Regions from separate parts of the Homo sapiens genome. Here region 2 is linked to region 1. Evidence: fine-mapped expression QTL. A gene starts in region 1. The other region holds a variant in brackets. All regions are shown on one strand. Distances are between the middles of the regions.

Region 1 (15,200 bases):
AGTTGCCATATTTAAAAATGGGAAGATGTTACTTAAAAAAAAAAAAAATCCAGATCTTTGAATTTCTTGTGGAGCTCTGTGGTCTGCATCCAGGAACACTTGGCAGGGGCCAGTGAGAGGGTGCCTTCATTATTAAGGTCAGTGGCTGGGGCTCGGAGTTTGCATTTTAGATAAATCACTGTAGAGGCTGGGTTGAGGAAGAGAAAGTCAGAAGCAGGATAAACAGTGAGAGAGAAGACGCTGAAAATGATTCTGTGATCTCTCCTTAGGAGGATTAGTGGTGGTCCTGGCTGATTCAGGAAACGAGGAGGATTGGATGTGTTGAGGGTGTTGTTTCCAGCATCTCTGAGACTTCCCAACGAGATGTTTTCCACTCCACGAATACAAGAATCAAAGCTTAAAAGACGAAGCCTGGGCTCAAAATTAAGTGCAGGAGTCGCCAGGCTGATGAAACAATGAGCCTGGGAGAATATGGAGACCCTAGCAGTGGGACCCTGGAAACAGCATTATCCGAGGGGCAGGTCGAGATGAATGGCCCACAGGAGACCAAGAATAAACCAGGAGTCAGGTTTCACAGAGGAAGAAGAGATCATGGTCTTGTTGCATGGCATTAAAAAGCTCCAGGAGCATAAAGACTGAAAGGTATCTACTGGCTTTAGCAATTAGGAGGTCCCTGGTGACCTAGGCAAGAACAATCCCAGAGTGTAGGGAGAGCAACAGTTCCGGTAGACTGAAGAGTGGATACAACCATCTCACTGCAATTCAGCATGACCCATAAAAGACAATCACCATCATTCAGAGATGCACACTGATACTTGCCGAGGCTGAGGACTTAGCCAGCTTGCTCATGCCAGGATGTTCAGAGCAGTGTCTTGTGTTTTTGTTTGTTGTTGTTGTTGCTTTTTGAGACGGAGTCTAACTCTGTGGCCCAGGCTGGAGTGCAGTGGCGCGATCTCGGCTCACTGCAACCTCCGCCCTCCGAGTTCAAGTGATTCTCCTGCCTCAGCCTCCCAAGTAGCTGGGATTACAGGAGCCTGCCACCATGCCCGGCTAATTTTTTGTATTTTTAGTAGAGACGGGACTTCACCATCTTGGCCAGGCTGGTCTTGAACTCCTGACCTCGTTATCCACCCACCTCGGCCTCTCACAGTACTGGGATTACAGGCGTGATCCACCGTGCTCGGCCACAGAGCAGTGTCTTAACACCAGGTCTTCAGGCTCCAGGGCCAGATATCCAGCCAGCCATCCTGCCTCTTTCTATCTGTTAGGTATGCCAAAGGTTGGAAATGCAGGTGTTCTCTGGACATTTCTAAACCCTTACTGACCATCATCTTTTTTTTTTTTTTTTTTTTTTTGAGACAGAGTCTTGCTCTGTCTCCAAGGCTGGAGTGCAGTGGCGCAATGTCAGCTCACTGCAGGCTCTGCCTCCTGGGTTCACACCATTCTCCTGCCTCAGCCTCCTGAGTAGCTGGGACTACAGGCGCACGCCGCCACATCTGGCTAATTTTTTGTATTTTTAGTAGAGACGGGGTTTCACCGTGTTAGCCAGGTTGGTCTCGATCTCCTGACCTCGTGATTTGCCCACCTCAGCCTCCCAAAGTGCTGGGATTACAGGCGTGAGCCACTGCGCCCAGCCATACTAGGACATCTTATGCTTCAGACCCACTGGCTAGAGGTTTTGTTTAAACAGAATGAGGAGTTTAGGAAAGTTTCTGGCAACAGAGACTAGTTACACACTTGAATCCCATTTTCTGCTCCTGGACACACAAAAACACTGCACTCCCCACCCTTACAGCAGTCAGCCTGGAGGCATGTGAGTAGATGCTAGCCAACTGAAGTGGTGTGCCACTGCTGGGCCTGGTCCTGAGCATCCCATGTGCTCATCCAAGCCTTTGCTCCTGTCTGACCTGAGAAGAGGCAGATGGTGGGGCCACAGGCTGGAAGGAGTTTGGGTTTCTGAGTCACTGCTGGCAGGAGAACCATCTGGAAAAGCCACCTAGCCCGCATCAGATGTGACATGAGCAAGAAACGAGCTATGATTGTATTATGCCACCGAGACTTCAGGGTTCCTGTGTTACTGCCACACTGTTGGCCTGTGCAGATGGATGTTGCTGGTAAGATCACTGATTCAAAGGCACAGGACAACAGCACAGCAGGCTTGGGCTCCATGCTCATGGGCAGGGGGGAATGGAAGTAGAAGTTTCCACATACTCTCTCCCAGTCAGTGAATCCCCTAGATCCCGTCTGGGGTATGTATTTCATTGTTGAAGTCCATGGCGCATACCGTTAATGGGCCTGCTTAATGAGGCCAGTGTCCTGGTGGCCACTCACCTATCTGGAGCCTTTCTTATTTACTTTGAGCTGCTCCCAAGGAGTGTGGTTGGACATTACCAGCCACCTTGAAGGCATGAGTAGAGGAGAGCTCTCTAGTGTCCAGCCCAGTTTGGGATTGTGAGAAACTGTGCTGGACTTAAACGTACATCCCTGCACCTGGGGTGTAAAGATCCCTAAACTGTGTGGCTTAGGGTGGAACCAAGACCCAGACTCAGACCTTCCTGGGGTTCAAACCTGGTCAACACCAGAAGCCTGGCACCTATCCCCACTGTTAGGCAGCAGGGAACTCTCACTCTTCACTCCCTCTTCCCAAATCAGAATCTTTCCAGTTAGTCAACACTTCATTTCCTTGGGGAATCATTTTATACTATGAATGATACCCCAGCAGAACTGATATGAAAGCTAAAATTGCCATAAAGCAGACTTTCTTAAACCTTGCTTATCTAGAAAAGAATAAATTGCATATCCCAATTTTTCATAATGAGAAACTGCAAATTAATTAGTCTTTATTAATAAGGCCTGGCTACAGTGGCTGAAAGACATGAGGGTTTATTCTTTCCCATGAATGAGGCAGGTAATTTGGGCCTGGTGGGGCAGCTGCACAAGGGGTTGGAGCTCCTTCCGTCCTACTCTGATGTCTACCCAGCTGTCATGTTCACACTCCAGGTGGCAGCAAAGGGGACGCATGGAAAGGGGCAGAACAGCTTCCTCCCAGATGAGTTGGCAGCCTTTTTGGAAGTCTCTGACACCTGCTGTGGCTCATTGGACAGTTCTGAAGCACGCGGCAACATCTAACTGCAAGGGAAGCTAAGAAATGCAACCATTTAGCCAGGCATATTGCTCTGAGCAGAGCTGGGAGATTCCTGCTGGAGAAGGGAGGCTGGGAAGAGGTGGCAGGCAGCAGCTCTGCCAGCCAGGGTGAATTCCTGTTAAAATGCCTGTTTATTCCCATTTTGGCTTTCTTTTGCTGACCACAGCTTTGGGGATCTTTGGACAATGGGTTCATATCCATAGCAGGTGAAGAGTAAGGGAGAACTAACATGCCCCCTGCAAGAACACATTAGCCCTTGTAAATCAATCGTTCCTCTGCCTTACAGATTACCTGCAAAATGTTGTAATAGGTGTGATTTTTAATTTCATTAATTTGGCCAGGCACACCTGTATTCCCAGCAACTTGGGAAGCCAAGGTGGGAGGATCACTTGAGCATAGGAGTTTGAGGCTGCAGTGAGCCGCAGTCTCACTACTTCACTCCAGCACAGGTGATGGAGCAAGACCCTGTCTCTAGAAAAAAATCCATTGATTAATAAATACTAATAAATAAAACCCAATGCGGCCGGGCACGGTGGCTCATGCCTGTAATCCCAGCACTTTGGGAGACCGAGGCGGGTGGATCACGAGGTCAGGAGATCGAGACCATCCTGGCTAACATGGTGAAACCTCATCTCTACTAAAAATACAAAAAAATTAGCCAGGCGTGGTGGCGGGCGCCTGTAGTCCCTGCTACTCGGGAGGCTGAGGCAGGAGAATGGCGTGAACCCGGGAGGTGGAGCTTGCAGTGAGCCGAGATTGCACCACTGCACTCCGGCCTGGGCGACAGAGCGAGACTCTGTCTCAAAAAAAAAAAAAAAAAGATATATATATATATATATATATATATATATATATAACCCAATGCACAGATAATTTTTTATGTTTATACTATGGACCCATACTTCCCTGCTTTTAGATATCCACTGGTTAATAGCATGATAATCCCATGACCCCATAATCCCCTTTCCCCGGAGCCATGATTTATGATAGAAATATGTACTTGCCTATTGGAAGGATGAATTTGTTGATTTTCAAATGAAGATATCAATATTTCATATTTCTAAACTCAGTTTTCTCCCCTCTTAATTTTTCTGGTATAGTGCAAATAGGTTTTATAATACTCTTGTGGTTTCCTTTATTAGAAAAACATAGTGATGTGTACTGTTGAGCTAAATGACAATATTACAGATCGTAAAAAAGATTTAGTATTTGAACCTTTGCACTATTCAAGCTCGTAAAGCCATTCTCAGCGAGGATCAATTTCAATTATGTTTTCACTGCTTACATAATGGAGGTGGTGGGGGCCGTCTCAAACCCTGGCTGGGGAGCAGAGAGAGCTTAGGCCACGGGAGAGGGCATGCCTTTGCCCTGCACGAAGCTCCTGGCCTGAAGCTTTCCTTCATCCATGGAGGTGGTTCATTATGGTCCTTCCTTTATGTGACCAGAGTCATTATTGACAGCTGTGTTCCAAATCCAGCTTGCATTTTTAATAAGGTGTCCATGGGGGGAATCCTGGGCAAATGGGAAGTGCTGTGGTCTGGGTGTCTGTGTCTCCCCTGAAATTCATATATTGAAATCCTAAGCTCCTAGGTGATGGTATTTGGAGGTGGGGTCTTTGGGAGGTGATTAGGTCATGGAGGCTAGAGATGGAGCCTCATGAATGGGATTAGTGCCCTTGTAAATGACACCCCAGACAGCGGCCTCACCCCATCTGCCATGGGAGATGACCAGACACTGGGTCTGCTGGGCACCTTGATCTCGGACTTCCCAGCCTCCAGAACTGGGAGAAACAAATGTCTGTTGTTGAGGCCTCCCAGCCTACAATATTTTTGTTATAGCAGCCCAAGCTAAGGCAGGTAGCCAAAGGAAAGCCAGGCTTTTGTTTAATCAGTAGCAGGGGGTCAGTGTTCAAAGTTTAGTTAAATAACTAAATGCAGAATCTCATTCTCCAATAGGGTACAATCAACGCAAAGCCCAGCTCTTTCCTCTGCCTTTGACCTGGAGCTGTCCCATCTGAATTTATGCTGGGGGAGGACAGATCACCCAAGCTTGACAATGGTTCACATAGCATTTCATCTCCCGGTATCTAGGTGACACCCTAAAGGCCCTCCCTCTGTGCAAATACTCCCCCAGACTTAGTCTCTCCCTTTCCTCATTTTGCTAAGGATAGTGGCCCATTTTACTTCTAAAACAAGTTTCCATCATTTTCAAATCATGATATACTTGGAATAGAATCCATACCCTTTTGTCCAGCCCCCACGTGGAATGTGGTCTCTACCACCCTTCCTGGGCTGGGCTCAGCTGCCTCCCAGGCCAGCTCCCTGCTTTGTGGCCACAGTTTCCTGTCAGTTTCCTCAGCACACCTGGCTCTGGGCCCCACAGGACCTTTGTACAAGACCTTTGGTCCATCTGAAACACCTTCTGCCCAACTCTGCAGGACTGCCTTCTTCCTTCGCAAGTCTTGGTCAACTTTCCTTCTCAACAACCAAAGCACCGCCCCTCACACCCCCTTACCCCCACATCAGCTTGCTGGTGTCCGCCGTATCACCCAATTCCATTCTCATATTTTAGGCACATTTGCAAGCCTAGGAAGGTGTGGTTCCTAAGAGAGACTTTAAATCACAAATATTTATATTCCTGTTTTTTCTGCCTATGGAACTGTGACCACATGAGTAGCGGGTGCTCTGAGATGATACTTTAAAAACTAGCTGGCCAGTGCTGAGGAGGGCAGAGCCCTGTGAGGTTACCACTGACAGAGCTGGGGACAAACGCATTTTAGGAAAGCAAAGAAGCCAGGCCAGGTCAGTCCTGGGAGCCACTGTGCCACGAGGCAGGGGCAACGTTCTTCCAGAAAACAGTCCCAGTTGTGGGACAAATTTGAAGCTGCAAACTCTACACTATAGACAGAACTGTGATCATTTTATTCTGAATAACTTAGTGGGTGTCACCATGAGCATAAAAACATTTCATCAAATATACACACACTGTGTTAGGATTTGAGCAATGTCATTTCCTGGAAGGTTTTCTGAGATAGACTTCACCTGCAGGTAACCAGAAGTTTACTTGCTGTGGTGAGTTGTTAGGTGAAACCAATTATATGTCAGGGCCCAGCTGCCAGACAGGAGCATCTTGCTTTTGGAGTGTTTGATTCCCCTGCCACTTTTTGAGACAGTAATTAGTAGCAGGAAACTGTCACCAGCCAACTGATAATCCCCTCACATACAAACACAAATAATCCAGGCATCCTGTGCACCCTTGCTTATCACGGCCAAGAAGTACTTTTCATCTCCATTTCATAACTTGATTACTCTATGCCTCCCCAAACAGAGCATAAGCTTCTTGAGGCCAGCGATTTTGACTGTTGTTCTCATTGTGATCTACCCAGCAACTGGAACAGTACCGGCACGTAGAAGACGTGACGTGCATTTGCTGCATGAATAAACACATGAACATGATGGCATAGGAGAATGCTACTTTGATGGGGTACATGGGTATCAAGGATTTTCTTTCTGCTCACACAACATGAGATTTGTAATTAAGACACAGATTTAAGGTGAGTCCGGTGGCTCACACCTGTAGTCCCAGCACTTTGGGAGGCTGAGGCAGGAGGATCACTTGAAGTCAGGAGTTCGAGACCAGCCTGGCCAACATGGTGAAACTCTGTCTCTACTAAAAATACAAAAATTAGATGGGAGCAGTGGCACATGTCTGTAATCCCAGCTCCTCGGGAGGCTGAGAATCGCTTAAACCTGGGAGGCAGAGGTTCCAGTGGGCCAAGATCACGCTACTGCACTCCAGTCTGGGCGAGAGAGCAAGACTCTGTCTCACCAAAAAAATAAAAGACACAAATTTAAAATCACGATGACCAGAATATGGCTCTGTTTCACTCACTGGAAATTATCTGATCTGCAAGATAATTCTTACCAACCCCTGAGTGTTTTTTACAGGGATGGGAGTCCATTGACTCTCTAAAATCACTTGCGAAGTTTTGTTGCTGCGGAGCTGAGAGCTGGGGCCAGCCTGCCTGTTGTGCCCCTCCATAAGACTCCTGGCCATGCATTTGAGCACACCTCATGAAGGGGGCAGGTGGCTGGCCGGGCTGTTATGTGTAGCAAGCATGTGTTCTAAATTACAATTCATTTGTTCTAAATTACATTCATCATTTCTAAATTTGTTCTAAATTTAGAACACAGCCCCAGGAGACCCCCTTCACCCAACCATGTTCTGCAGTCTTGATTCATTTTCTTACTTAAAAAATGCTATTGATAACCTGTTGCTATTTCTGCCTCAGTCTCTTAGGAAATGTATAAAACAGAAAATCACATATCTTCAAAGCTCTGGAGCTTTACATGATGAAGATAAGCAATGATTTCTCATTTCATTCTTTCTCTTAATCAACTGAATTAATTATATACTCATTTTCATTTGGATATGATGACTAGGCAGACTTCAAGTATAACCATCCATAACCTTGCTTAATGCCATGATGTTTGGATTTTTTTCAAAGAGAGGAAAAAACTCCCTTGGCTTCTATTACAGCATCCATATTTTGTGCCATTTTAATTTTTTCTTGTGTCTTTTTTCTCTCTCTTTGGGAAATATCAGTATCATTCCTTTTGGTAAATTTTAAATCACCACTTAATTTCCAATAGAAAAAATGTTTTAGTTACACCTAAAATAATCCCAAACCTCAAACACACTGTGAGCACACCAGAAAGTAAAAATTATATGGAGTAGAACAGATTAGCCCAGAATACCTCCCATTCATTTTCCCAGGTTCCTAATTTAATAATTTCAGTGACTTTAATTTATCACAGACCCTCAGTCTGAACTCGGCATGAGCAGGGTAGACAACCAAACCTGAAAATTCAAGTTAAAATTCTTGTTTGGGAGCTTATATTATCTAGATTAATCATCCACAAGGATCAAGTCAGCTAAGTAACTCTGGTTCAGCTTAATCTCTGTGGAGGCAGAATTAGTCCTTTACAGTCTAGGTCCTTGCCCCAGCCCCATACATTTCTGTCTGCTTTTTTCTTTTCTTTTCTTTTCTGTTTTGAGACAGATTCTCGCTCTGTTGCCCAGGCTGGAGTGCAGTGGCACAATCTCGGCTCACTGCAACTTCCATCTCCTGGGTTCGAACAATTCTCCTGCTTTAGCCTCCACACATGCCACCACCGGCTAATTTTTGTATATTTTTTTTTTTTTTTTTTTTTGAGACGGAGTCTCGCTCTGTCACCCAGGCCGGACTGCGGACTGCAGTGGCGCAATCTCGGCTCACTGCAAGCTCCGCTTCCCGGGTTCACGCCATTCTCCTGCCTCAGCCTCCCGAGTAGCTGGGACTACAGGCGCCCGCCACCACGCCCGGCTAATTTTTTGTATTTTTAGTAGAGACGGGGTTTCACCTTGTTAGCCAGGATGGTCTCGATCTCCTGACCTCATGATCCACCCGCCTCGGCCTCCCAAAGTGCTGGGATTACAGGCGTGAGCCACCGCGCCCGGCCTAATTTTTGTATTTTTAGTAGGGACGGAGTTTCACCATGTTGGCCAGGCTGATCCCAAACTCCTGACCTCAAGTGATCTGCCCGCCTCAGCCTCCAAAGTGCTGGGGTTACAGGTGTGAGCCACGGAGCCCAGACTGTTTCTTTCTTAAGCTCTTACTTTCTCATGTGTGAGTTACCTTGTAGGTTTCCAAGGCAGAGGGGACAAGATGGAAAAGGAGAACACAGAAATCTAGCCTGGAGGAGCTGCTCTGTTCCTGTATTTATCTGTGTAGGTGTGAATGAGGGAGAAAATGACAAGAGAATGACATTATTTTAAGGCTGTTTTCCCCCCCCCAATCATTTACTTTTTGAGAAATAATTGCCCAATACTGAAAGGTATGTCCTTTCAAAATGTTGATGTTTCAAATGGCTTCCTAATTACCTAGTTATACGGGGGGTGTGTATGGTTATCTGAAGTTACATGGGTATACACTGGTGGTGTGAGGTGTCCAGAGAGAGGAAAGGAAGAGCAGTCCTGGTGGCTCAAACCCTGAGGGATGTGCGGGGGATGGGTGAGAATGTGAACAGACATGTTGGAAGCTGAATCCGTGCAGTGGCACCCATGCCTGTAGCCATCTCAGTGGGGGGTCCTTCTACGAACAAGCTTTGATTAATGATATTTTAATGCTAGTTTAGCTTTTTAGCACTCCCACGCCTAAAGGCTCTGATAGAAGCAAGGCCCCCACCCCTGCAAAAAAAAAAATCCATGATTTTTACGCATTCCAACAGATCTCTTAAGGGGCAGACGGCCGGAGAGCCAGGTGTGCCAGGGACCTATGGCAGCAGGGCTGAACGTGCCCGCTCCAGCCTCTCCAGTGCTGGGAGAGACCTCTAGATGGTGCAGGTGAGTTTGCAATGAGGGAAAGCCCCTCGGCAAGGACTGAGTTTCCAAACTTGCAGACAGGGCAGGGAGCGGTCAAGGAAGAGTTCCCGGGAAGCCCTTTAAACGGAAAGGAAGCGGGGCTAGTGTCAGAGAGGTGTGCCAGGTCCCAGGCAGCCCTGCTGGCCCCTAAGGACATAGAGTACCTGCTTCTGAGAGGGCTGCCACGGTGGCCACCTGTGAAGCCTGTCACCCAGAACTGGATGGTACCTGACTTTCTTCATAGACCCATCTTCTGCTGGGACTGAAGCTGACCTCCAACAGAAGCCAGGTAAGCCCTGGTCCTTTCCTCTGGTTTTCTAAACTCTTCAGCTGTGGCCGAGACGGAGGTGTCATGGGCTGGGAGAGAGGCTGGGTGCATTTTTGAAATGCATGTCATTTTTGGGTTGCGTTTGAACAAGCTTTACCGATTGCAGTATGTCTGCGCTACCAGTTCTAAGACCTGAGATTGTTCCTTTGTTTTAGAAAAACATCAGAAACCCTGTTTTGCTGTTGGTTGCACATTTGGTTAGGGAGACAAATTCTGTGTGTGCTTCACAGGCTTTAAGATTTGGGCTACTGAAGCAACGGGTTCCTCCAGGGAGCGTGAAAAGTATGTTTCTCAGGTTTGCCCCTGTGCCCGGCTCACTGGGGAAGGCAGGCGCGGCAGGGACTCTAGCTGGGCTCTGTACCTGCCTCCAACTCTGCGTACCCGCTGTGACCTAAGAGACCTTCCAAGTGGGGTTTCCAGTCGTGTCTGAGACCCCCCATATCCTGGCCTCTGTGTTGGTGGCGGGGGAGCGGGGAGAGGGAGAGAAGGAGGGGAGTGGGTACCTATTTGTGATGATTGAGGTTTTCATTTCCAGCCAAGAGGTTCCTCTCAACACTCTGACAGACCGTGGGGTGGGTTGGGCTCCTAGACAGGAGTCGGCTCTGATTCAGTCGGCTCTGATTCCCAGCCTCCTGCAGCAGCCAAGCTTTGAGATGTCAGCTCAGGGAGAAGCGGGTGGCTGGGCAGGGAGGTCAGCAGGCGAGGTTCCCACTGGGTTTCCCTGCCCATGTTGTGCTGGGTCAGCAACAAGAGGGACAGTTAAAATCAACAAGCAGGGCAGATGCCGGTCAGTGGGCAATCCCACACAGCCAGGGGTACACGCATGTGAGGAGACGTACGGAGAGACAGGAGCACCACCGTCCTCTTCCCCAGTCCCCAGGCCACTGCTCTGTGGCTCTCAAGTGGCATTTTTGAGACACTTTCTAAGCAAGAGTGAAAGTGTAACAAAGAAGTGAAGAGCCATAATAGACTGAAGGAAAAAAGGGATCCAGGCATCTAAAATAGAGAATGTTTCTTGCCTGGCTTAATACTCTGAGATTTGTAAGTCATAGCCACTTAAAACCTTTAAAGATACATTTTGACAGAGGCCACCAAAAAGAGAGTGACTCTGGTCAAGGCTTGGAAATAAGCGTTCGTTCCGATGACAGTCCACGTGTACCCTTCACGGCTGGGAAAGTTTGGCGATCCTGGTGGCGATTGGCCGGGGGTCTCCACTGTACCCCTCCCCATCCCTAAGTGGGCCAGGCTGTGCTGTGGGAGGATTAATTTGTGACAGCACAGTTGGAGGATAATCTTGGAAGGACCAGTCTTTGGGAGGAAAAAGTAAATACACTTTCCCTGAAATGCTTGATTTTCACTCCCTGGCCACTACCTGGTTTCTTGCTTTTGTGAGCTGGACTTTCATTTTGTTGGGCATACACATTTGTGAAGCACAGACATGTCAGGGGCTCATCTTTGTTTCTCAGGCATCATGGTACCCTCTTGCCTAGCCCAGTGCCTGCCATTGGGCGGCAGCCCAACATTGCTCCGGAGTGCAGACAGACCTGGTCTTACCCCATCTCACGGAGCGCAAAACCTACTTGCCTCTGTTAAATGGGGAGCCTCTTCTAGTCAAAGTTCCTCAGGTCTCATAGGCCCACAGATGGAAGCTGGGTTACCTGACGCTCCTTTCTGGGTCCAAGTGAGTGCGTTTTGTGGTTTCCAAAGAATAGAATTTATTCTCAAGGAAATGCCCAGGAACCCAGCTTCAAAGACTCAAGCAAATCTGAAATTCAAATACAGGAGCTGTAAACAGGATGGTGTTTGGCAGACAGCCTTGCTGCTTAAGTGGCTCAGCCCCTCAGCTGGGCTCAGTTTCCCCTCACCCTCCTCCTAGCCTGCCTAGTGACTGCCTGCATGCCTCAATTATCCTGGATGACACCTGCCTGCTCGTTCCTTTGATGCTGTTTGAGGCTCTGCCTAGGTATTCCACCCACCAATAGTATCATTAATTAACTTACATTAAGCCCACTTAGCACATTAGATCAATTAGGGGACAAAAGCCCCAGCCAGCCTTTCCTGTGAGTATGCCGCCTCCATCTCAATGCCTACGATTCTGTCCTTACTGAATTCGTATATTGCAGGAAGGAATTTTTTTTAAGTCCCAAAGATTACTATTTTCCTAAAAAATAAAGCAAGGAAACATAAGCTGATGTCTAATCATTTAACCTCTGCTGTACATTTCTATGGCACTTTACAAAGCGTTGTCATGAATGTCTTCTCTATTTTCCCAATAAGGAAATTGAGGCTCAGAGAGGTTCACTGTCTTGCCCGAAGTCCCACAGCTCATAATGATTATGGGAACACCAAGAACTGGTCTAGGTTAGCACTCAGTATGCCCAGGCCTCGTGTGGAGCCTGTCACTCATAATTGGAGGGGCTGAGACTAGAACCTGTGTCCTCTGCCTCCAACACTGACACATTTGCCCCCACAAGGAGATGGTGCAATGACAGCCACCAGGGATTATAAAAATAAGAGTGGAGTAAGCAAACACTCCCCCTCCTGTATCTTAGTTTCCCAGGGTCGTGTCAGCCCCAGACACACTCATCTCCTGTCCTCAGAGGCGAGGGATCAAGAGGAAACAGTCTCAGTTTTGTTCTTTGTGAACCCTCCTGATAAAAGTTAGAGTGTTTGTAGTTTTTATATAGTGAAAAAAACTGTCAAATATAGGCCATTGTAGGTGGTTCAGTCTAAGATAGTCTAGTAACTAAAAAAAAACTCAAAATGGCATTTGGGGCTCAGGCATCCCAACAGCCCACTGGCCCCTGAGACAAATGAGCTTGACCATATTTAATTTTTCATCATTGCCCTTAGAGTGTCACAAAGCATTACCCAAGGATAGCTGACCCTGTACAGTCAAAGCTATGAAAAAAGCTTTGCCCTGGGTCTTGGCAGGGATCAGCCATTCATTAGGTCATGTATTAAGGGATCCTACAACCTGAAGTGTCTTCAGTCATAGCACACCCCAAGGACATCATGCACTCCATGAAAATATGTCCAATGAATGAATGAATGAATGGGCTCCTTCATCCTTCTTGTCAGAGAAAGGTCACCAATTGTTCCAATGACACAGTTAGGGACAAGGGGGCTGCTCAAACATCAGCATCCCCTAAGTCAATAAGCAAACAAATCCTAGTTAGCAAAGCTACCCTCTCTGGGGGCAGAGACACCTGTTATTTCTCAAATGCTGGATGCCCAAGGGTGGCAAACACACTGTTTGGACCCCAGGAAGGAGCAGACACATGTGGGTGAAGCTGGAGGTCCTGCTTCCTTGCCCAGATCCTCTTGCCCAGACACACTCTGGAAATGCCCATCATTTTATACACCTACGTACACATGTAACCAGCCAGGATGCCTTTGTTTTCCATTTCCGAGAAAACAGAGGACTATGGAAAACAGGTGGGCCGTAAGGAGCCCTACAGAGGAAGATGCACCTGTGGCGGTAGCCCTGCCTGCACCACCCTGCGAGCTCATGCCAGCTTAACTCACTTCACGGTCAATCAGACCTACTGCTCCAAACACAGTAGGAAGGCGCGCCTTCACTTGTGAGTCGGACGAAATCAGCAATGAGGGCAATAACAACCACAGTCACGTTACTCTTAGTAACAGCCCTGAGGCCCGCAGTGTAGCACAGAAGCCAAGCTTAGTGGTGGGCTTAAGGCTGATGTTGTTAACTGATACCATTCAATAGCTAGATATAGGCAACTAAAAGGTGAGCCCAAATACTGAAATAAGATACAGTATTAGTCTCCTGAAAATAAAAAAGAGTTGATTCTGCCAACAACACCTTAATCCTGAGAGAAAGCACTTTCTTAGGATAGAAGAAAGACATGCAAAACCAGACTGCAAGCAAAAAATGAGAGGGCATGCACTGTTTTGACGACTCTCAGATGGTTACCAAATCTCTTCTCTTAAAACTTCCATTTGCCATATTTCCAATCCCATGTTTGCACAGAATCCTGCATGCACAGGAGGAAGCAGGCAGGATTTCAAGTTGGTTTTAGTGCACATTCATTCATTCAGCAAATGTTTTCTGGGCATCTGCTACATGCCAGGCACCATGCTGGGATGTAGTGAGTAACACAGTGGTCCCATGGGTGAGGAGAGAGAACATCCCTGCACTCACAGAGCTTAGATTCTGCTGCAGGGAGAGAAGCTATAATGCATAAATCCAGCGCCATGAAAAAAAAACAAACAAACTAGCAGGGCAGGTAGAAAGAAGGTGCCCAGGGTAGTAGTGGGGGCCTCTTGGGAAATGAAATAGTTGAGTAAAGACCTGGATGAAGTGAGGGAGTGAACCAGGACACCCGCAAGAAAGGAGGCCCTGGGGTGGGGTGAGCTGGAGATGTCCCAGCACCAGCAGGAAGGCCATGCTGCCGGAGCAGAGGGAAAGGAGGGTTGAACAGAAGGAGAGGAGAGGAGAACCAGGAGCCTGAGCGGGCCGTGGCAAGGGGGCTGGGCTCTCATTGAGGGTGATGGAAAGGCAAACAGAAGTCAAGTCAGGGCGGAAGTTCAGCCATGGTGGCTCACGCCCTGTGTTGTTCTGGGACAGTCAGTGCCCACACCACCCCATCCCATGCCACGCCGGTTGCTGTAATTTGCTTCTAAGGAGCTGGGTCTCCAAGTAGCCTCTTCCTGGGAGAGTTGGCTTGGCTGAGGTGCAGGGCAGGAAGGGCAGGCAGCAGGAAGGGTGGCAGGAGAGGAATGATCCATTTTCACCAACACCTGCTCCCTTGGCCGTTAACACATGCCAAAGGGATCCATTCTGAGAAAAATTATGAAGACCCTAACCTGAAACACATGATTACACTTCCAAAAATCTGAAAGTAGATTATCAAGACTCAATAAGTTGTGCAGAGAAAGAACACTTAGCAACAGACATCGCCGTCGCCCCCCTTGCAGCCCTGCTGGGACACTCCCACAGTCGCAGAGCCACTGGCCAGCTGCACTCGCTTCCTCCTCACTTGGAGAGAGGGACACCTTCCAGCATCGGGTGTGAGATGGAGTGGGGACGCAGTGGCTCTCTGATGGCTCAGTTGGCAAAATTGTTGGAGAACGGGTTCAGAGATCACTGATGCCCTTGGCCAGCATGCCAGACCTGTTCCTGTTGACTCCATATGGCCTTTGGAGTTGGAGAGAAGGTGGCTTCCCTGCCCCGTCCCGCACGGAGCCACCAGCACCTGGAAAGTTTGATTTCCTTCCTCGTATCTGGAAGATGCAGGTCGATTAGGAGGGAAGTCAGTCTGGAGGAGGATACCTGTCTCTGGGAACTCCAGGGCAGTCAAG
Region 2 (15,200 bases), 41 kb before region 1:
CCTGGCCAACATGGTAAAACCCTGACTCTACTAAAAATACAAAAATTAGCTGTGCGTGGTGGCATGCACCTGTAGTCCCAGCTACTCGGGAGGCCGAGCCAGGAGAATTGCTTGAACCCAGGAGGTGGAGGCTGCAGTGAACTGAGATCGCGCTGCTGCACTCCAGCCTGGGCGACAGAGCAAGACTCCGTCTCAAAAAAAAAAAATCTTAAAAGACATTGAAGTATTAGGGCTTGCTGGAGAAACAGAACCAATAGGATGTGTGTAAGAGAGAGATTTATTTTAGAATTGGCTCACACCTTCGTGGAAACTGACAAGTCTGAAATCCACAAGAAAGACCAGCAGGCTGGAGACCCAGGGGAGGGTTGATGTTTCAGGCCTGAGTCCAAAGTCTGTCTAGAGGCTGAATTCCTTCTCCTTCAGTGATCTCAGTCTTTGCTTTTAAAGTCTTCCATTGATTGGATTGGATTCTGCTTGCCTAATGGAGGGTAAGTTGCTTTACTCAAAGTCTACTGATTTAGATGTTAATCACATCTGAAAAACAATTTCACAGCAACGTCTGGACTAGTGTTTGACCAAACAACTGGATACCATAGCCTAGCCAATTGGACACATAGTTTACCATCACATTCAACCTCTTTAATAATGGAAAAATGCAAATTAAAACTACAAAGAGATACCACTACACTTACACCAGAATGTCTAAAATTAAAAAGACAAATCATGTAAACTACTAGAATGTGGAGAAACAGGAGCTTTCGTATGCTGCTAGTTAACATGAAAGTTACTGGTGCTACTTTGGAAATCAGTTAAGGATTGTCTTAAGCTATAACCCAGTAATCCCACTCCTTAGTATTTTCCCAAAAGAAATACATGTACATGTTCTTGAATTTCGAAAGTTCTTTATTCTAGATTCCAGTCTTTTGTCAGCTATGTGGTTTGCAAACATTTTCTTTCAGTCTGTAGCTTGCCTTTAGGTCTTCTTCATAAGGTCTTTCACGGGGCAAAATTTGGGGTTTTAAATTTATTTTTAATTTTAATATATTTATTTATTTAGAGACCGGGTTATGACTGGCTAGTTTTTGTATTTTTGACAGGATGGGGTTTTATCATGTTGCTAAGGCTGGTCTTGCACTCCCAGGCTTAAGCAATCTACCCTCCTCGGCCTCCCAAAGTGCTGGGATTACAGGGTGAGCCACCACACTTGGCCAGAGCAAAAGTTTTTTATTTTGCTGAGGTTCAATTCATATATCTTTTAGGTTTAAGTCTGTGATCCATTTTGAGCTAATATTTGTATATGGTTTGAGACAAGTCAAGGTTCATTTTTGCCTATGGATGTCCAATTTCTCCAGAACTGTTTATTGAAAAGGCTATCCTTCTCTATTGAATTGTTTTTCACCTTTGATAAAAATCAGTCGAGCATGTTTGTGTGGGTCTGTTTCTGGGTTTTCTGTTCTGCCACATTTGTCTACATGTCTATCTCTCTGCCCATACCACACTCCCTTGATTACTGTAGCTACACAGTGAGATAGACTGGCTCCTCCTACTTTATTCTTTATCCAGTTTGGTTAAGCTATTCCAGGACTTGTGCCTTTCCATGTAAATTTGGGATAAGATTGTCTATGTCTACAAAGCACCTTGCTGGGATTTTAAGAGTAATTGTATTAAACTTATTAATCAATCTGGAGAGAATTGACATCCTTAGGAAGTTCAGTCACCCAACTCATGAACTTGGTTGGATTTACTTAGCTAAATCCTCTTTTATTTCTTTCAAAAGCATTTTATAATTTTAGCGTGCAAATGTTGTACATATTTTGTTATATTCATGCCCAAGTATATAATTTTCTTTGGAACTGTCATAAATGGTATTGTGTTATTAATGCTAGTTTTGAAATGTTCATTGTTAATATATAGAAATGACATTTATTTTTCTGTATTGCTATTGTACCCTGCTACCTTGCCGACTTTACATTAATTCTAGGAGTTATTTGTAAATTCCTTGGGATTTTCTAAGTAGACAACCAGGTCTTTGACAAATAAGGGCAGTTTTATTTCTTTCCTTCTAATCTTTGTGCTTTTTATCTCTCTTTCTTGTCTTATTTCAGTGGTCAGAATTTCTAGCACTATGTTGAATTAGAGTGGTGAGAACAGATTGCTTGTCTCTTTCCCAATCTTAGGGAGAAAGCATTCCATCTTTCTCCATTAAGTATTTGGTTCTTTTTTTTTTTTTTTTTTTTTTGAGACATGGTCTTGCTCTGTCACCCAGACTGGAGTGCAGTGGCACAATTATGGTTCACTGCAGCCCTGAACTTCCAGGATCAGGTGATCCTCCTGCCTCAGCCTCCCGAGTAGCTGGGACCACAGGCACACCACCCTTTCTGGCTAATTTTTGTTTTTTTGTTTTGTTTTGTTTTGAGACAGGGTCTCACTCTGTCACACAGGCTAGAGTGCAGCAGCATGATCTTGGCTCACTGCAACCTCCACCTCCAGGGTTCAAGCAATTCTCCCACCCACCTCAGCCTCCCAAGTAGCTGGGACTACAGGTGCACACCACCATGCCCAGCTAATTTTTGTATTGTTTGTTAGAGACGAGGTCTCACCATGTTGGCCAGGCTGGTCTGAAACTCCTGACCTCAAGTGATCTGCCCACCTCCACCTCCCAAAGTGTTGGGATTACAAGTGTGAGCCACCTTGCCCAGCCTGATTTTTGTATTTTTTGAAGAGACGGGGTTTTGCCATGTTGCCCAGGCTAGTTTTGAACTTCTGGGCTCAAGCAATCCGCCCATCTCAGCCTCTCAAAGTGTTGGGACTACAGGCATGAGCTACTGTGCCCAGCCTAGGTTTTTAAATAGATGCTCTTTCTCAACTTAGGATTGTCCCCACCACTCCCCGCCATTCCTAGTCTGCTGAGACTTTTTACCGTGAATGGGCATAGGATTGTGTTAATCTTTTTTTCTGCATCAAATGATATAATCATTTTTATTCTTTACCTGGTTAACAGAGTAAATTACATTGACTGATTCTGGAATATTGAACCAAACTTGCATATATGGAATAAATCCCACTTCATCATGGTGTATATAATTTTTTATATACGATGCTGTATTAGGTTTACAAAATTTTGTTGATAAATTTTGTGTCTAAATTTATAGAGATAGTGGTCTATAACTTTCTTTTCTGTACTGCATTTTCCTGATTTTGGTATCAGGGTAATACTAGCCTTATACAATGAGCCAGGAAACGTTCTTTCTTTTACTTTCTGAGATAGAGTGTGTAAAATTGGTATTAATACTCCTTAAAGTATTTTCATCTGAAGATTTCTTTTTTGTGAGCCGTTTGCTTATAACTTTAATTTCTGTAGCAGCTATGGAACTATTCAGGTTGTCTCTATCATCCTCGTTGAGTTTGGTAGTTTGTAGCTTTCTTGACATTAGCACATTTCTTCTAGGTTGGCAATAAGTTCTCTTAAGTTTTCTTTCATCTGAGAATGTCTGATTTCTCCTTCATTCCTGAAGGGCGTTTTCAGTGGCTATTGGATTTGTGATTCTAAGTTCTATCTTCAACTTGAAAAATGTTGTGCCTCTTCCTTTTGGCCTCCATGGTTTCAAGATGAGAAATCCACTGTCATTCAAACAAATATTCCTCATGAATAATGCTTCATTTCTCTCTGGTTCTTTCAATATTTTCTCCTTTGTTTGTAGTTTTGGGTGTTTATGATGTTAAGAAGTTTAATTATTTTTTTTGTGTTTACCCATTTGGGTTTGCCCTGCCAAGGGAACAGAGGATTAGCTCCCAGCTCGAGTGCTCACCCTACTAGGCCAGAGAGTTCAAGCACTCAATCAGCTTCTGCAGAGCAGAGGCTACAGGTGGGGCTAGAAGGTTCTGTTAGGCCCACTAGACTTTTGCTGGGATAGGGTGGGTATTGCCAAAAAGGTTTCCTTTTGTTGTCAGGCCAGCCTTTCCTCTGTGCTTTGACCAGGGGGGACCAGGCCTTTCTTAGAGCTTGTCTGTGCCTGCTGGTGGTTTCTGGTTGGAGGCTTCTGCAGTGCCTCATCCAGGGTAAGGGCGGGGTGGGGTGGGGGGTGATAAGGAAATCCAAGGACTCACACCTGTCATTCTTCAAGGTCTGAGGTCCCTAGGCTTTTTTTCTTCCTTCCTCCAGCTTTCAGAGTCTTCTTCTGCTGTCTGTTGTGTTATGTCCAGATATTTTACCTGTAAGAGGGAGTGTCTGGGAGGAATGGGACTCTCCATCTTGGGGGAACCAGCAGTCAACACTCAGGTTTTAATGCACTTTCCTCTGTTTGTCATATTTCACTATTAAAAAGAGTTAACAGGCAAGAAATAAGATGGCCATCACACTTGAGAAGGTTGGGAGCCCTGACTTGGTACAAACTACTTTTTGATCTGACATCTAACAAATGATGTCTTACAATATCTTACAAAAAACATACGTGTACCATGCTGATCCTTCTGGATAGTCCAATCTAGGGAGGTTATCTAACCAGTAACTCCTCACAAACCAGGGATAGCTCTCCAGCACTGGGTCCTCTGGCTAATGGCCCCCACCAAGTGTCAGACCTACCTAAGCCCCATTCTTGTCTCCTTTTCTTTTTTCTTTAAATGTGCCCCCTCACTTCTCTGTAATATTTCCCATGCCCTTTTCATACCCTCTCCTCCTGCATGGGCTTTTGGATAATCTTTTGGATAATCTAACCATGACTGGTTATTGAACACTCACAGTGTGCTCTGTACAGGAGAGGGGTTTTACCTAAGCCCCCAGGGTTTTTGAGGAGGCCTTCTCTGCTGCTTATGGTGGGCAAAGAATGGGGTACCACCCCCCTCATTCATCCCAGAAGGCCCTAAAACTCAGAACAAACTATTTGCAATGAATCTAGGAGTACAGGATGATGAAGATGGGGCACCCGGCCCCACCTTAGCTCCATGAAGTGGCCTGAGCCAGGTGTAAAAGGAGCTGAATTTGCTTACATGGTGGCTCCAGAACCAGCTTTTGCCTCACTGTGCCTCCCTCTGCCTGCTGGCTTGCTGCTTTGTCTTTCTTCTTCGCCTCTCTTGCCATAGCCCCTCAGCTTGGCTCTGCAATACTCCACGTTCCTCACTTCCCTGTGCTTTCATTCCCTAAACGCCAGTCTCTTCCTCTGGGGCATGGCCCTGGGGCCTCCCACTGAAATTGACCCAATAGTCCCATAAATAGTTTTTTGGATAAACGTAGAAATTGACCCTTCTGGTTCTAAAGTTTGAACCTTCCTTTTTTTTTTTTTTTTTTTTTTTTTTGAGATGGAGTCTCACTGTGTCTCCAGGCTGGAGTGCAGTGGCACACTCTTGGCTCACTCCAACCTCCACCTCCCGGGTTCAAGTGATATTCTCCTGCCTCAGCCTCCCGAGTAGCTGGGACTATAGGTGCCTGCCACCACACCCGGCTAATTTTTTGTATTTTTAGTAGAGATGGGGTTTCACCATGTTTGCCAGGATGTTCTCCATCTCTTGACCTTGTGATCCTCGTGATCCACCCACCTGGCCTCCCAAAGTGCTGGGATTACAGGCGTCAGCCAACACACCTGGCTGAACCTTACCTTTTTTTTTTTTTTTGGAGTCAGGGTCTCCCTCTGTCGCCAGGCTGAAGTGCAGTGGTGCAATCTCGGCTCACTGCAGCCTCTGCCTCCTGGGTTCAAGCAATTCTCGTGCCTCAGCCTCCCGAATTGCTGGGACTACAGGTGCCCGCCACCACACCTGGCTCATTTTTTTTGTATTTTTAGTAGAGACGGGGTTTCACCATGTTGGCCAGGCTGGTCTCGAACTCCTGACCTCAAATGATCCACCCGCCTCAGCCTCCCAAAGTGCTGGGATTACAGGCATGAGCCACCGCCTCTCAAAAAAAAAGTATCATCAAAGAAGGGAAACTCACCAGATCAACACATCCAGACAATGAGATACCCTACATTGTGACTGCTTCCTTGCCCCTCCGTAGTTCCTGTTTTCTTACACACTGTTATCTTTCTTCCCTGGTGTATAAACCCCTAGTTTTAGGTGGATGGGGAGATGGATTTGAGACTGGGCTCCCATCTTCTCAGCTACAGCACCTGATTAAAGCCTTCTTCCTTGGCAATACTTGTCATCTCTGTGATTGGCTTTCTGTGCAGGGAGCGGCAGGACCTAGACAGAACCTGGGTGTTTCGGCAACACCACCTGCCTCTGCTTCCGAGGGCACACTCAAAAAGGAGGGGACTGGGCCCGTGCATTCACCTCAGTGTCTCTGTTTCACAAAAGGAGTCGTGGAAATCAGAATAATCAAAATCTCAGCTCACAGAAATGAGCGAGGCTGAATGCAAAATTAAAGTGGACAGGGCCCATCAACAGCCTGAAAGGGGCTTTGTTATTCCTTCCTAGGGAAGTCATCACCTCTCAGAGAAGTGTCTGGCTGAGTAATGACCAAACATGAAAGGTCTCTGTCCACTCAAGGCATGGATCATACTAAGGCCTGGTGATCAGTTTAAAGGAAATGTATTTCCCATGGCTGATGTCCACAACGTTCAGCTTCCAAGGGTTCAGGAAGGACTTATATTTCACCCTGCCATGACATGGGTCAAATATGAGGCCTCTTTGAAAATCCAGGGAAAATTAGCTCCTGGTGACATAGGATGCACTTCTTAGCTCCTAGTTGCCCATCTGGAGTTCTCTGTTAGGCCCACAGAATCAGCAAACTCTGTGTGGAATTAGGCGATTGCTCCTCAGTAGTGGCAGTGCAACCGGAGGGAAATTATTGTTCCATTCTGACTTGTGAGTTCCTATAAATCTTAGCTTTAAATCAAATGCTCTGTGAGTTGCTACAGGAGTTTCATTTAACCCACCAGCCTGTGCAAGAGGTGAGAGGTGGCCCGACTGTGAAATCCCAGAAGACACATCTAGTTGGCCAAGGCCTCTGCTCTCAGCTGGAGGAAAGACTCCCCCACCCCACCCCATGGGGAGGGGAGAAAGCGCATGGATGGAGTGGGATGAAGAATGGAGAGTGAGGAGAAAGCCCTTCCATGGTGTAAAAGTCAGGGCATCCGCTGAAGCCTCTCACACATTCGACCGATGTCACCCCAAGGAGCAGTTTCACCAGACAGGGTGCTGAGTCTAGCACAGCATCTGTTTGCAGACGGTGCTTGAAAGGACTGAGGTTGGGTCCTGGAGTTCTAAAGTTCTAACCCTTTTCTTCTGTCTTATTTCACCTTCCTGCAAAACAAAGAGGGGGTGGGGAGGGACAAAAAAAATCGCTATGCAGAAGTTCACTCCGGAAAATGCCCTGAAATAAAATCAACAAGATTGATGTGCAGGCAGACAGGTAATAACTTTAGAAGTGAAAGAAATCTCCAAAGATCTATGACATTTTTAACAAAACAGGGGGAAGGTGGGCAGCGCTCAAAACTGCAGAGCGGTAATTACACCCACAGGAAGTCTCTAATGAACTTGAAAACAAAGCTCCGAAGAAAGGGAAAGAAGATAACTGCAGAGTTCTGTTTACGTAACCGTAGGGGGTTTGAACACCAAGAACTTACAGCTCCTGAAACGCGGTGAGGAAATGGGAGGGAGGGCAGCGAGCGTTCAGAGTTTTGGCAAAAGGTCAAAGAGAGTGAACGGATGTGGGGGGAGGGGAAGAAGGTGGCGGGGGGTGGGTGGTAGCGCTCACGGGACAAGAAATTGAGCAAACAGAAAAGCTTAGTTGCTGAAGAAAATACTTAGAGGAAGGAGGGTTCTCTTCGCTGGGGGCAAAGTGGGGCAGCTTTATCCCGCCTGTGGCCCGGAGGTAGGCGTTGGCGCAGGTCTCGCCGGCGCCCGCAGCGCGTCCAGGTTGCCACCGGCAGAGCCCGGCCCACGTGGCCGACGCTGAAGCGGCGCTCTCCGTTCCTCCAGCGGGCGCTTCCCGGCCGAGCTGCAGGGGGTGCACACAGCAGAACTTCACTGCGCCCTCCTCGCCGC[A/T]CGTGGGGCCAGGCCGTGCGCTAGAGACCCGCGGACTCGGTGCAGCCCGGCGAGGCGGGCAGAGCCGACTGCTGGGTCTGAGCGCGCATCCCCTGCTGCTACTGATTGAAGCCCAGTCCCCGGTGCAACAGTAGTAAGAGGGGGCCTCCAGGGAAGTGATTCCGTCGTAAGGGGAACGGGGCTGATAACCTTATAAGAAGGCTGGAGGAAGCTGTTTCCTCCCTTCCGCTCCTTCTGCAGAGCGTTCCCGTCTCTACCCCACCCCTGCCACATCAGAGCCCCCATCTGTGCTGAGTCAGCCAGCACCCATCAAGAAGCCCCCATCTGTGAGGAACAGGCCCCCCTCACTGCTGACACCTTGATGGTGGACTTCCAGCCTCCAGCACGGTGAAAAGGAAATGGCTATTTATAAATTACTCTCTAAGGTGTTTTGTTGTAGCAGCAGGAATGGACTTAGGGACCCGGAGTTCTTACCATTGCCCAATCACAATACCCTTAGACTCCAGCATCTCCACACATGGCGTCCCCTCGTGGAGCGCTCCGTGTCTTACCATGAGTCAGTGAGACAAAAGGTGCAGATGACACTGATGGTGGTATACATGCACACTGTGTTAGTCTGTGTACTAGTTATGAGTATATATACCAATTATTAAACCATTTTACCAAGAAAATAAAGACTTGGGAGATGTTAAAAAACTGCCAAAGTCGGGTGTGGTGCACCTGTGGTCCCAGCTACTCTGGAGGCCGAGGCAGAAGGACTGCTTGAGCCCAGGAGTTCAAGACCAGCCTGGGCAACATAGTGAGACCTAGAAAACAAACAAACAACAACAACAACAACAAAAACTGTCAAGAGACAGAACCTGGATAAGAAGTGGGTTATATAAACCAAAGTGGTCCAAAAATTCAGATGCCTGAGGGGCCCCAAGCTGGTCCTAGGTACTCAGGAAAGTACAATTCTAGAAGGAGCCTTCTGCTTAACAGCCTGCTGGTCATCCTCAAAGAGGCCACCACTCCCCACTCCTTCTCAGGGAGCCTCATCCCATCAGACAGTGAGGCCCATTCTTTCATTCATTCAGGTCATATTTACTGTCTATCCAGAATGCACCAGGCACTGTGCTAGGTGCTACTATACACATTATCACATTTGGCAGGGTATGGCACACCTCTTCATTTAAAAATAACCTTTCCAATGACATTAACAATGGGCTTTACTTACGTGAAATTCACTTAAAATAGAATTCTAAGGAATTTTACGTAGCATACCATAATTTGGCTAGAGGAGAAGGCTGGGTCTTCAGTGGGAAAATGTTGAAGGTAAAGCACTTGAGCGCATGGCCTGCTGGGGAGAGTGCTGAGCCAGCTGGCTGTGCAGGGGAGGATTGAGGAAAAGGCTGAAAATGAAGGCTGAGGATCAGTTTCATGAGCTCTCGAATCCAGGTTGATTTGAAACTGTTCTTTGCATAGGCAGAACATTCTGAGGTAGCAAACAAAAGTTAGAGTCAAAGAATTCTTTCTAAAGAATGATGTCAAGGAGGCAGTAAATCTAAGACTCACCCACACACTCGAACTGGCACTCAGTAAATGCTTACTGAATGAATGAATCAATCAATCCATCAATACAGAGATAGCAACCAGGATCCTTGTCAAGTCAAGAGGGTTATTAGTATAGTATTTCTTTAAAATAAACAGCCTTATCTGTGAGCAAAATAAGAGGCTGCCCCTGAAGGCTAAGGATGTCTGCATCCATTTGAGAGAAACAGCCTTTCATTGTGCAATGATTAGGCTTAAGTTGCTGGCAAGGCTGGAGACAAGGATAGAGATGAAAGGCTGGATGATGGCTGCCGGGGGGCCCTGTCCTGCAGCTGTTCCAGCCAGGAAAGGAGAGGGGAACAGAGGAGACAGCACAGGCAGCAGGCAGGCATCCCAGGCCGAGGAAGGAGGGAGGGCTCCCCAGGGTCACCCTGCTCTACTTTTGGAGCCTGATGCTGTAAAGTTTGCCCGGCAGGGACACACATGCTGCAGAATCTCCTCTTTCCCCTCATTGAGAGGACCAGGTTTTCCCTTGGAAACGGACAGACACACACTGAGCTGCTGCTTCCCAGGAGGGCTGAGGCACCCTTCAATAACTTCAGGCATCAGTGTCAGCCACATCATGGTTTCCCACCTCCAGATTCCCATGCCTTCCTTACCCTAATGAAGTTTCTCCCATTTACACATGGTCCCTCATCATCCCTCTCCTGGATGCTTTACTAGCTTTATGGAAGGAACTTGGAGGAGTGGCCAAGGCAGAACCCAGCAGCTGCGGCCATGGGGGTGAATGGGGGCTGGGATGGGGAGGGACTCCATAGACTCAGTGTTGACATGAAGGAGGAAAGGGCCCAGGTGTCCTATTAACAGTAATAACAATAATCTTGCCTTAAACCTTATTTATTTATTTATTTATTTTATTTATTTTTGTAGTTTAGAATGAGGTGAGGGCTAAAGAAATAAACAATCACATAGGCCGGGCACAGTGCCTCACGCCTGTAATCCCAGCACTTTAGGAGGCTGAGGTGGGAAGATTGCTTGAGCCCAGGAGTTTGAGACCAGCCTGGGCAATATGGCAAAATCCTGTCTCTACTAAATAAATAAATAAATAAACAAACAAATAAATAAATAAACAATCACAACTAAAGTCGTGACAGCCAGATTCACACATGCATTCTCAGTTGGCCCTCACAGTCCCTGACAGCCACACAGATCCTGAGAGTGTGAGGCTGCTCTGGAAGACAGGAGTGGGGCTTAGACCCGATGACCTCTAAGCTCTGTTCTGCTGCTTTAGGTCCAGGGTCAAGGTGTAGGAGGGGCAAGATATGTGTGGGGGAAGGGCAAGAACCGGGCCTACTGACTTAAGCTACTCATTTGGGTGCATGTCTGCCACCCTCGGAGGGCCTGTGGAATAGGTCAGAGCACTCCTCTAAGTGAGGGCTGTTGGGATCGGATGCTTAGGGCACAGCAGAGGAGATTGAAACAGCATTCAGCACTGTCCAGATGTTGATGCAAGGACTGTCACCCTCAAATACAGTGTGTCAGCCACCATGAGCCACTGTGCAGGAGGGCCTGAGGGTGGCGTGTGGAGACAGGCCTCCCAGCAACGGGGAAGCCAGGGTGCAGCAGCAGGGCCTACCTTCTTGGTGTAAGGCTCTTCCTTCAGTGGAGGTAAGGGCCGTGGCCCAGCATGCACTTTGTACTTTCCATTAGCCCTGAGGCTCAGGTGTCAATTATGGTTTAGCATTTAAAATCGAACAATATGTTTTTATTTTATTTATTTCTTTTGAGACAGGGTCTCACTCTGTCACCCAGAGTGGAGTGCAGTGGCATGATCATGGCTCACTGCAGCCTCAACGTCCTGGGTTCAGGTGATCCACCCACCTCAGCCTCCTGAGTAGTGGAGACTACAGGTGTATGTCACCTGGCCCAGGTAATTTTTTGCATTTTTTGTAGAGACAGGGTTTCACCATGTTGCCCAGGTTGGTCTCAAACTCCTGGGCTCAAGATGTCTGCCTGTCTTGGCCCCCCAGTGTGCTGGAATTACAGGCGTGAGCCACCTCACCCTGCCAGTATGTTTTTAAACAGTACCAGGAAAGCCTTGAGCTCTTCCCTGCCTCAGCAGGACACATGCATTAACTGGCAGAGCCCAGTGCTCCCTCTGAGGATGGATCTGTGAGTAGCAGCTCTGGGAGAGACAGAAGTAGGGGACTGGCAGGGACTCAGAGCCTGCAGGGAGAAGGAAGACGCATGGCGGGGAGGCCAGCATGCCAGGCTGCAGAGCTGCCGCCCACCCACCCCGCCCACTCCTGGAGCCCAGGCCCTCATCAACTCTAGGTCTTGCTCCTGGCCTAGGTCCTGCTGAGTCCCCATAGTCATAACGACGCTTACGCAGCACTGCTTCCTTCCAGATACTTTGTCCACGTCAGTGCCCAATAACCCTGTGAGGTCTGTCACCACTTACAGGAGGGGAGCTGAGGCCCAGGAGGGCTTAGGCCCTGCCCAGGGTATCATAAACAGAGGGTGGATGGACATGCCAGGCTCAGAGCCTGTGCCTTCATGTCAGGCTCCACAGGCTTCCTTGGCTCCATGCTGCCTTCAAAAGAGGAAAGTTACTTTTGTCTTCAAAATCCAGTCTTTCCTTATGGCTTCAAAAGCTCTTCCCTTGAAGACTCCACAAAGGAACAAGATGTCTGGGGTCTGGCTGGGCCCAGGAGACCTCTGCAATGCCTCCAAGATGAGGCTAGTCCCCCAGGAGACCCACCCTCCTTCAAGAAGTCTTCAGAGGTCCTTGTTTTTTTTTTTTTTTTTTTTTTGAGACAGAGCCTCACTCTGTTGCCCAGGCTGGAGTGCAGTGGTGCAAATCTTGGCTCACTGCAACCTCCGCCTCCAGGATTCTAGTGATTCTCCTGCCTCAGCCTCCCAAGTAGCTGCTATTACAGGTGCGAACCACCACGCTCAACTAATTTTTGTATTTCTAGTAGAGATGGGATTTCACCACGCACCAAGCTGGTTTTAAAATCCTGACCTCAAGTGATCTGCCCACTTTGGCCTCCCAGAGTGCTGCAATTACAGGTGTGAGCCACCACACCCGGCCAATGTCTTCAGAGGTTCTTTTTTATTTTTTGAGACGCCCACCACCATGCCTGGCTAATTTTTTGTATTTTTAGTAGAGACGGGGTTTCACCACATTAGCCAGAATGGTGACCTCGTGATCCACCACCTTGGCCTCCCAAAGTGCTGGGATTACAGGCGTGAGCCACTGCACCCGGCCACTTCTAATGATTTTTAAGAAGTATTTGGCAGCTCTGAATTGGCAAGTGTGGAAATAAGACTGAGAGGAGCAGCTGTTTCTAAAAGATCATTTTGAGCTTTTTCCCCACCTAGAGGGTGCCGAGCAATCAGGATGTGAGGGGCACAGTCTGGGCTGCTGCTTTCCCCACTTGAATACATGACATATCCAGTGTATCCTACACTAACGGTGCTTCCTCACCTTAGAGCTGGGAGCTCATGACTGCATAGCCAGCCTTTGGTCCCCTTGCTTCAGAGGGAAGAGGGGCCCAAGGGACAGGCAATACCTCAGACACACTCTTCTAAAAGCAAAAACGGTGGCCATTAAAATAATGCGCTGTCCAGGTGTGATGGCTCTTATCTATTGTCCCAGCACTTTGGGAGGCAGAAGCAGGAAGATCGCTTGAGCCTAGGAGTTCAGGACCAGCCTGAGCAACATAGCAAGACCCCATCTCTTAAAAAAAAAAAAAGCTAGGCATGGTGGTATGAGCCTATAGTCCCAGCTACTCTGGAGGCTGAAGCAGGAAGATTGTTGAGCCCAGGAGCTCAGGTGACCTACAATCATGCCACTGCACTCCAGCCTGGGTGACAGAGTGAGACCCTTTCTCTAGAATAAACAAAATTAAAATTTTAAATATAAAATGTGCTGTCTTCCATGCACTGGATCTTTCTGAGCTGCTTTTCTGTGGTGGTGCTGAGCCAATTCCTCTTGCTGTCTCTTCCCACCTGCTCTGAACTGCAAGCGTTTCTGCTCCCCCAGGGAGGGCAGGCCTTGGTGAGGATGAAGGGGACTACTAACAATTACACCAGGATGAGGACATCAGCTGGGACTGTCCCAGGCCAAATGGGACACGTCGTCCCCCATCTCTGTGAAAAACTAGAAATCTAGGAATTAACCATGTGGCTGCCAGAATCTCTATGTGAAGCTCTAACCTATTGATGTAATTTTTTTTCTTTTTTTTTTTTTTTCGAGACGGAGTCTCGCTCTGTTGCCCAGGCTAGAGTGCAGTGGCGTGATCTCGGCTCACTGCAAGCTCTGCCTCCCGGGTTCACGCCATTCTCCTGCCTCAGCCTCCCGAGTAGCTGGGACTACAGGCGCCCACCACCACAACCGGCTAATTTTTAGTAGAGACGGGGTTTCACCGTGTTAGCCAGGATGCTCTTGATCTCCTGACCTCGTGATCTGCCAGCCTCAGCCTCCCAAAGTGCTGGGATTACAGGCGTGAGCCACCGCACCCGCCCTATGTCCTTGTTTTTTATAATGGACTTTTTCCAGAAAATATTTTTGGCTCCCCAAAATATGTACGTCAAGTTATAAATCATATCTTTACTACTCTGCTAACCCATTATATATAAACACAAAAACAGATCTTTTTAAACATAAAAAGAATAGAAACTCCACTCCTTAATATATACCCAAAGGAACTGAAAACAAATGCTCAAAACAGATACCCCAGTGATTAGAGCAGCATTATTCACAAAGCTAAAATCAACTGAAAGTCTATCAACAGTTTAACAGTTAAACAAAGTGCAGTATGTCCACACAATGGAATATTATTCAGCCTTAAAAAGGAAGGAAATTCTAATACACACTACATACAACATGTGCAAGCCTTGAAAACCCAAGTGAAACAAGCCAGTCACAAAAGCACAAATATTGTATGATTCTATGTATATAAATTATCTAGAATGGTCAAATACATAGAGATCAATTCATAGAGGGAACGGTTACCAGCAGCTGGGAAGAGGGGACATAAGGAGTCTCTGCTTAATGGGCAGAGGTTCCATCTGGGGTGATGAAATATTTTGGAAGGAGTGGTGATGGCTGCACAGCATTGTGAATGTAATTAATCCCAATGAATTCTATACTTAACAGTGGCTAATATGGTCAATTATATGCTATATATATAGTTTTTGCAATCATAAAATAAGTTAAAAAAGAATATCAATTTAAAATATTTAGATAAACAATGAAGTTAAAGTTCTAATATTTTCTTCCCCTCTTCCAGTGAAGGTTTGTCCCCAGGTGCACACGTCCAAGACTAGGGCCCACAGTCCTAACCAGCCGGGCCAAGCCTCCCACTACCTATCACCTGGAAGGACATAGGATGAAGTGGACACCCTGAGGTGCCTCTTTGCTGGTGGACATGCCTGTCTCCAGCCACGTCACCTCCAGGTTCAGGCATCAGTCTTCAGAGGTGAAGCTTGAAGGCTAAAGGCAAGAGGGGAGTTGGCTAGACCAGAACCCCCTCACTGCTGTAATTTTCTCACTGTTAGAATTTTTGCAAAGGTGGTTTCAACCCCAACATCTTCTGTTCAGGAATCTACCTGCAAAGTTTTGAGATTTTCGACAGTAGCCGTGAAAAGATTCAAAGAGACTGGTAATTCTTTGCAAACTTACACCA

The links.
Region 2: its variant is fine-mapped to the expression of EDAR in whole blood (TOPMed, PIP above 0.99).

Annotation. Positions count from the first base shown.
Region 1 is chr2:108,983,596-108,998,795 of GRCh38, reverse strand. It overlaps EDAR (ectodysplasin A receptor), which reads left to right and starts at 9,576. Exons shown (of 12, transcript NM_022336.4): 1 at 9,576-9,836. It also overlaps a transcript of RANBP2 not described here. RefSeq lists an enhancer at 10,602-11,103.
Region 2 is chr2:109,024,363-109,039,562 of GRCh38, reverse strand. It overlaps a transcript of RANBP2 not described here. Among named protein-coding and RNA genes, the nearest start is that of EDAR, 43 kb to the right of the region's middle. The variant A/T (reference allele first, on the strand shown) is at 7,978.